Homo sapiens: one gene and its partner. The protein of the gene in region 1 interacts with the protein of each later gene in a biochemical or structural test. Each region holds a gene or a part of one and is shown in the gene's direction. Other genes may lie near its edges.

Evidence for each region. Proteins that work in one complex are often made in the same cells at the same time.
Region 2: the proteins of UBR2 (region 1) and UBE2B form a complex in vitro, tested with the Homo sapiens proteins (one study listed by BioGRID).

The regions. Positions count from the first base shown.
Region 1 is NC_000006.12:42,686,029-42,689,528, forward strand, and holds part of UBR2 (E3 ubiquitin-protein ligase UBR2), read left to right. Parts: intron 1-2,187; coding exon 2,188-2,358; intron 2,359-2,958; coding exon of another isoform or gene 2,959-2,980; exon of another isoform or gene 2,981-3,500. UniProt on the Homo sapiens protein: E3 ubiquitin-protein ligase which is a component of the N-end rule pathway.
Region 2 is NC_000005.10:134,385,069-134,388,568, forward strand, and holds part of UBE2B (ubiquitin-conjugating enzyme E2 B), read left to right. Parts: intron 1-3,256; coding exon 3,257-3,345; intron 3,346-3,500. UniProt on the Homo sapiens protein: E2 ubiquitin-conjugating enzyme that accepts ubiquitin from the ubiquitin-activating enzyme E1 and transfers it to a E3 ubiquitin-protein ligase. In vitro catalyzes 'Lys-11'-, as well as 'Lys-48'- and 'Lys-63'-linked polyubiquitination.

The DNA.
Region 1 (3,500 bases):
AACTATATAAGTTTCTATTCTTGAGCAGCATGTATTGTTATTTTGTATGTTTTTTTTTTAATTAGTATTTATTGATCATTCTTGGGTGTTTCTCGGAGGGGGGGATTTGGCAGGGTCATAGGACAATAGTGGAGGGAAGGTCAGCAGATAAAGATGTGAACAAAGGTCTCTGGTTTTCCTAGGCAGAGGTCCCTGCGGCCTTCCGCAGTGTTTGTGTCCCTGGGTACTTGAGATTAGGGAGTGGTGATGACTCTTAACGAGCATGCTGCCTTCAAGCATCTGTTTAACAAAGCACATCTTGCACCGCCCTTAATCCATTTAACCCTTAGTGGACACAGCACATGTTTCAGAGAGCACGGGGTTGGGGGTAAGGTTATAGATTAACAGCATCCCAAGGCAGAAGAATTTTTCTTAGTACAGAACAAAATGGAGTCTCCTATGTCTACTTCTTTCTACACAGACACAGTAACAATCTGATCTCTCTTTCTTTTCCCCACATTTCCCCCTTTTCTATTCGACAAAACCGCCATCGTCATCACGGCCTGTTGTCAATGAGCTGTTGGTTGCACCTCCCAGATGGGGTGGCGGCCAGGTAGAGAGGCTCCTCACTTCCCAGACGGGGCAGCCGGGCAGAGGCGCCCCCCACCTCCCGGACGGGGCGGCTGGCCGGGTGGGAGCTGCCCCCCACCTCCCGGACGGGGCAGCTGGCCGGGTAGGGGCTGCCCCCCACCTCCCGGACTGGGCGGCTGCTGGGCGGAGACGCTCCTCACTTCCCAGACGGGGCGGCTGCCGGGCGGAGGGGCTCCTCACTTCTCAGACGGGGCAGCCGGTCGGAGACACTCCTCACCTCCCAGACAGGGTCGCGGCCGGGCAGAGGCGCTCCTCACATCCCAGACGGGGCGGCGGGGCAGAGGCGCTCCCCACATCCCAGACGATGGGCGGCCGGGCAGAGACGCTCCTCACTTCCTAGACGGGATGACGGCCAGGAAGAGGGGCTCCTCACTTCTCAGACTGGGCGGCCGGGCAGAGACGCTCGTCACTTCCTAGACGGGGTGGCGGCCGGGCAGAGGCTGCAATCTCCGCACTTTGGGAGGCCAAGGCAGGCGGCTGGGAGGTGGAGGTTGTAGCGAGCCGAGATCGCGCCACTGCACTCCAGCCTGGGCAACATTGAGCACTGAGTGAGCAAGACTCCCTCTGCAATCCTGGCACCTCGGGAGGCCGAGGCTGGCAGATCACTCGCCGTCAGGAGCTGGAGACCAGCCCGGCCAACACGGCGAAACCCCGTCTCCACCAAAAAATACAAAAACCAGTCAGGCGTGGCGGCGCGCGCCTGCAATCCCAGGCACTGGGCAGGCTGAGACAGGAGAATCAGGCAGGGAGGTTGCAGTGAGCCAAGATGGCGGCAGTACAGTCCAGCCTCGGCTCGGCATCAGAGGGAGACTGTGCAAAGGGGAGAGGGAGAGAAGAGAGGGAGAGGGAGAGCTGTATGTTGTATTTTATTTTATTTATTTATTTATTTATTTATTTATTGAGACAGGGTCTCACTCTGTTGCCCAGGCTGGAGTGCAGTGGTGTGATCTTGGCTCACAGCAACCTCCGCCTCCCAGGTTCAAGTGATTCTCCAGTCTCAGCCTCCAAAGTAGCTGGGACTACAGGTGCACACCACCATGCCTGGCTAATTTTTGTATTTTTAGTAGAGACGGGGTTTCACCATATTGGTCAGGCTGGTCTCAAACTCCTGACCTCAGTTGATCCACCCACCTTTGCCTCCCAAAGTGCTGGGATTACAGGCGTGAGCCACTGCACCCAGCCAATTTTGCATTCATTCAGCATTGTTTCTAAGATTTATCTGTATTGACGTTTATAACTTTATTGATTTTTCATTGCTCCATAGTATTTTATTATATGGCAGTGGTACCGTTTATCTTTTTCTCCTATTGATGATTTTATTTATTTTTTTTTCTCCAGTTACTGATTCTTTTGAGTGTTTCCAGTACATGGTCTTTGTATATATGTGCAAGATGTTTCCTATTCCAGATTCTAGGAATAAACTTGCATAGACTGTAGGATATACACTTCTTTGGCTTTACTTGATATTGCAGAATTCTTTTCTGGGCTGGTTTTTTCATCACTAGCTCTTTAGCCACTCTTTAGATCAATGACTTGTGGGTTTTTTATCCCTTGGAGGTGCCCGAAATCAGGTGGTGATAAGAGCAGAGCCCCAACTCTGTGCCTTGTGTGCGGATCTCTGCTGTGCTCCCAGAGTTACTGCTGCCAGACTGAACTGGAAGGGGAGGATGTAGGAGCCTGCACAGCTCACACCTACTCCTGTGGCTCTGGAGTGGGCATCTTCCTGAGGTAAGGACCTGCAGGGGCTTTTTAGCTTTGGATCTGCCTCAGTATCTGACTGTTAGGGTGTCACAGGAAACTACTATATTGCCAGGAATTTTGAGACTACTGTTCCGTGTGATTCATTCCAGAAACGTGGAGCTCCTTGTCGCCTCACATCTCACATCTGGTCCATGCCAACTCTGTGTTGGTTCTTTTATTGTTACCATTCCCACTCCTCTTCCCTCAACCATAGGTGACAGTTCTGTTCTACTTTCTCCATGTCTCCCACTAATGTGAAACTTCTCTGATTTTCTGAACAAATCCAGTCAGAATTACTCTTTCTGTTATGTCCTCATGGCTTTTGGATTTTACCTCCACTTATACATATTATCACAACTCTACATGCCAGCTTGTGATTAGTGACTACTATGTACCAGGCATTGAGGATGCAGTAGTCCACAGTGCAAAGATCTCTGCCCTTATGGATGGAGCTTGTTTTGTATGAGAGAGAGGACAAGCAAGACTGACAAGAATTTAGATAGTGATATAGGCTAAGGAGAAAAAATAAAGCAGGGAAGGGGAATATGAAATGGCAGCTATGGAGCTAAATTTGAGATTTAATTTTAGTAGATCAGGGAAGGCTTCCTAAGAACATGACTTCTGAGTAAAGACCTAAAGAAGTGGGAGAACATTCTACTCAGAACATTCTGCACAGTTCCTGGGGTAGAAATGTGCCTGTCTGCTCAAGGCAAGGAGGCGCGTGTCACTGGAGTGTTGTGCACAGGTGAGAGAATCCAGGGGCCTGCTGTGTGCTGGTGACATCTCTGGGCAAGGTGTAAGCCATTTCAGGGTTTGAAGCAGAGGCATGACATGAGTGTGGGCTCCTCTGGAGCATAGGTTGTATCCATAGCTTAGTCATCCCCCCAGTACCTTGATAATTTCTTATACGTATTAGGTCCTCAATAAATGTCTGTTTAATTGTGCTGTACTATTAATGCCAGAAAAAGGCAAATGTCTCAAAGGGATCAGGGGACACAAATTTGACTCGATTCAACCTATTTCCTAGTTTGTGCACAATTTTTTAATGGATAACTTCCTCCTAATAGTGGTTTAAATATCAGTACTATAAGACTTCATTCTATTTGGAACTGAATACAAATGTTGGTTAC
Region 2 (3,500 bases), on another chromosome or scaffold:
GATATTCTGTATTTTGTTCATTAGTTGATAAGATATTTGAGTTCTGATTTACTTTTGGATTCTCAGAAATAGTTACTCAGAACTTTAAAATTGTTTTACACTTTTATGGGTTTTACAGAGTTACTAATTTTTGCTTTGGGCAGCTAAGTTTGATGTTTCTGTGGGATGGACAGTAAGTTGGCTTTGAAGCTGAGAGATAGATCTAGGCTAAGGCCAATGATTGGGAATACTGAGCACATGGATGGTAACTGAGGCCACAGGAGTCAATAGGATTGCCCAGTGTGTGTGTAAAGGGTAAGAAGGAAAAGGGCTTAGGATAGAGTCTGGAAGAATCACAGTGTTTAAGTGTGATTTGCTCCCCACTCTCTGTTATGGTTTGCTCCATGAAATGGTATCTGTAACATTTAAATGAATTTACTCTTTGTTTTACATAGCAGTTCACTTCTAGAAATTTTTTCTACAGATAGTCTCACAATTGGGCAAATACTTAACGTTCATTGCTTGTATTTTCACAGAATCAGTCTAAAAAGGGAAGAACCCTCCCAGATGTTCAGGACTTTTGATACCTGTTAGTCACTTGATTTTTTTTTTTAATGAAAGGAATATGTATACTCATTGCACAAATAAATCATAAACACAAGGAAGGATAAAGAAAATAAGATAGGCCAGGCACGGTGGCCCACGCCTGTAGTCCCAGCACTTTGGGAGGCTGAGGCAGGTGGATCACGAGGTCAGGACTTCGAGACTAGCCTGGCCAGCATAGTGAAACCCCGTCTTTACTAAAAATATAAAAAATTATCCAAGCATGGTGATGTGTGCCTGTAATCCCACCTACTTGGGAGGCTGAGGCAGGAGAATTGCTTGAACCCAGGAGGCGGAGGTTGCAGTGAGCCGAGATCACGCCACTGCACTCCAGCCTGGGTGACAGAGCGAGACTCCATCTCAAAAAAAAAGAAAAAGAAAAGAGGATCATCTGCTGGGGGCGCTGTGGCTCACACCTGTAATCCCAGCACTTTGGGAGACCGAGGTGGGCAGATCACCTGAGGTCAGGAATTCGAGACTAGCCTGGCCAACATGGTAAAACCCCATCTCTACTAAAAATACAAAAATTAGCTGGGTCGTGGTTGTACATGCCTGTGATCCCAGCTACTCGGGAGGCTGAGGCAGGAGTATTGCTTGAACCCAGGAGGTGGAGGTTGCAGTGAGCCGAGTTCTCACCACTGCACTCCAGCCTGGACAACAGACTGAGAATCCATCTCAAAAAAAGAAAAAAAAAAAGGGCCGGGCACAGTGGCTCATGCTTGTAATCCCAGCACTTTGGGAGGCCGAGGCAGGTGGATCACCTGAGGTCAGGAGTTCGAGACCAGCCTGGCCAACATATGGCAAAACCCCGTCTCTACTAAAAATGCAAAAATTAGCTGGGCGTGGTGGTGGGCACCTGTAATCCCAACTACGTGGGAGGCTGAGGCAGCAGAATCCCTTGAACCTGGGAGGCGGAGCTTGCAGTGAGTTGAGATTGCACCATTGCACTCCATCCTGGGCAACAAGAGCGAAACTCCATCTCAAAAAAAAAAAAGGAAAAGAAAATAAGATCATCCATAACCCTACTATTACAAATATCCACTACTTACATTTTGACATTCGGTCTTAGAAATGTTTTTTGACTACATATACTTTAAATGAATTTATATAAAACTTTTTAATCAAAATAGGAAATTATAAATAATTAAAAACTTATTTTTAAGGTAATAGTCTGTGGATGTCTTACTCTATAAACAGTAGATATGTATCATTTCTGGTGATTGTGTTGCTATTGCTTATATGAATGTATCAGTTGTTTATTTAGCCAGTTCCCTCTTTTATGGACCACAAGGTAGAATTAGTTTTTCACTTTTTTTTTTTTTTTTTTAAGATAGAGTCTCGCTCTGTCGCCCAGGCTGGAGTGCAGTGGCGTGATCTGAGCTCACTGCAACCTCTGCCTCCTGGGTTCAAGCAATTCTTCTGCCTCAGCCTCCTGAGTAGCTGGGACTACACGCATGCACTACCATGCCTGGCTAATTTTTGTATTTTTAGTAGAGACAGGGTTTCACCATGCTGGCCAGGCTGGTCTCGAACTCATGACCTCATGATCCACCCGCCTCGGCCTCCCAAAGTGCTGGGATTATGGGTGTGAGCCACTGCGCCTGGCCTTCTACTCTTATAAGTAGTATTATAGTGAACATCCTGTAAGTAAATCTTTGTGCATGTCCACGTTTATTTCCTTAATTTCTAGGAGTGTAATTGCTATGTCAAAAATAAGCAGTTTTTTAAAAGCTTTAAGAATATTTAGAAATACGGAATTTAAATAGATTGCTAAATGATGTGTGTTGAAGAAATTTAACTCAAAGCCTCCTGATCATAACATGCTGTCTTAGTTCATTTTCTGCTACAACAGAATAGCAGGGACTGATAATTTGTAAATTTGTAAATAATAGTAGTTTGTTTGGCTCATGGTTCTGGAGACTGGGCAGTCCAAGAGCATGGCGCCAGCACCTAAGCAAGGTCCTTGGTGCTGTGACATCCCATGGTGGAAGGCAGAATGACAAGTGAGCACACAAGACATAAGAAAAGGTGCCAAACTCATCCTTTTATCTGGAGTACACTCCTGCCCTGAGCACTCATGACCTAAGCACTTCTTAAAGGTCCCACTTCTCAACAGTGTTACAATGGCAATTAATTTTTTTTTATTTAATTTTTTTACTTTTATTTTTTTGAGACAGGTTCTTACCCTGTCATCCAGGCTGGAGTGCAGTGGTGTGATCTCAGCTCACTGCAACCCCTGCCTCCTGGGTTCAAGCGATTCTCCTGCCTCAGCCTTCCAAGTAGCTGGGATTACAGGCATGTGCCACCATGCCCGGCTAATTTTTATAATTTTAGTAGAGATGGGGTTTCACTGTGTTGGCCCGACTGGTCTCAGACTCCTGACCTCAAGCAATCCTGCCTGCCTCGGCCTCCCAAAGTGTTCAGGACTGGCGTGAGCCACCGTGCCCAGCCTCCAGCAATTACATTTCAACATGAGATTTGGAGGGAACATTCAAACCATAGCAGGTGCAAAATAAGAGACCTTAGTTTTAAGACAGGTTATCCTGTGATACAGAAGAATTTAGTTATTACCTAATATTTAAAACTTCTAAGCCAAGCATTCTGTTTGGTAAAGATTTCTCTTAACTGTTAGATATGGCAGAGTGTGTAACTAATTTTAGTATTGTCTTTGCAGTGTATGCTGATGGTAGCATATGTTTAGATATCCTTCAGAATCGATGGAGTCCAACATATGATGTATCTTCTATCTTAACATCAATTCAGGTAAGTGTGTGTTAGGATGTATTATAATTTGTCAGTATTCTGTAGGATATAGTCAGCTCCTTAGCACACAGGTAACCAATGGCAGAGCTTGGACAAGAATCCATGCTTTTCAGCTAACTTTTCTCTTTCAGTAGTGCCTACTTGGGATCCAGTCT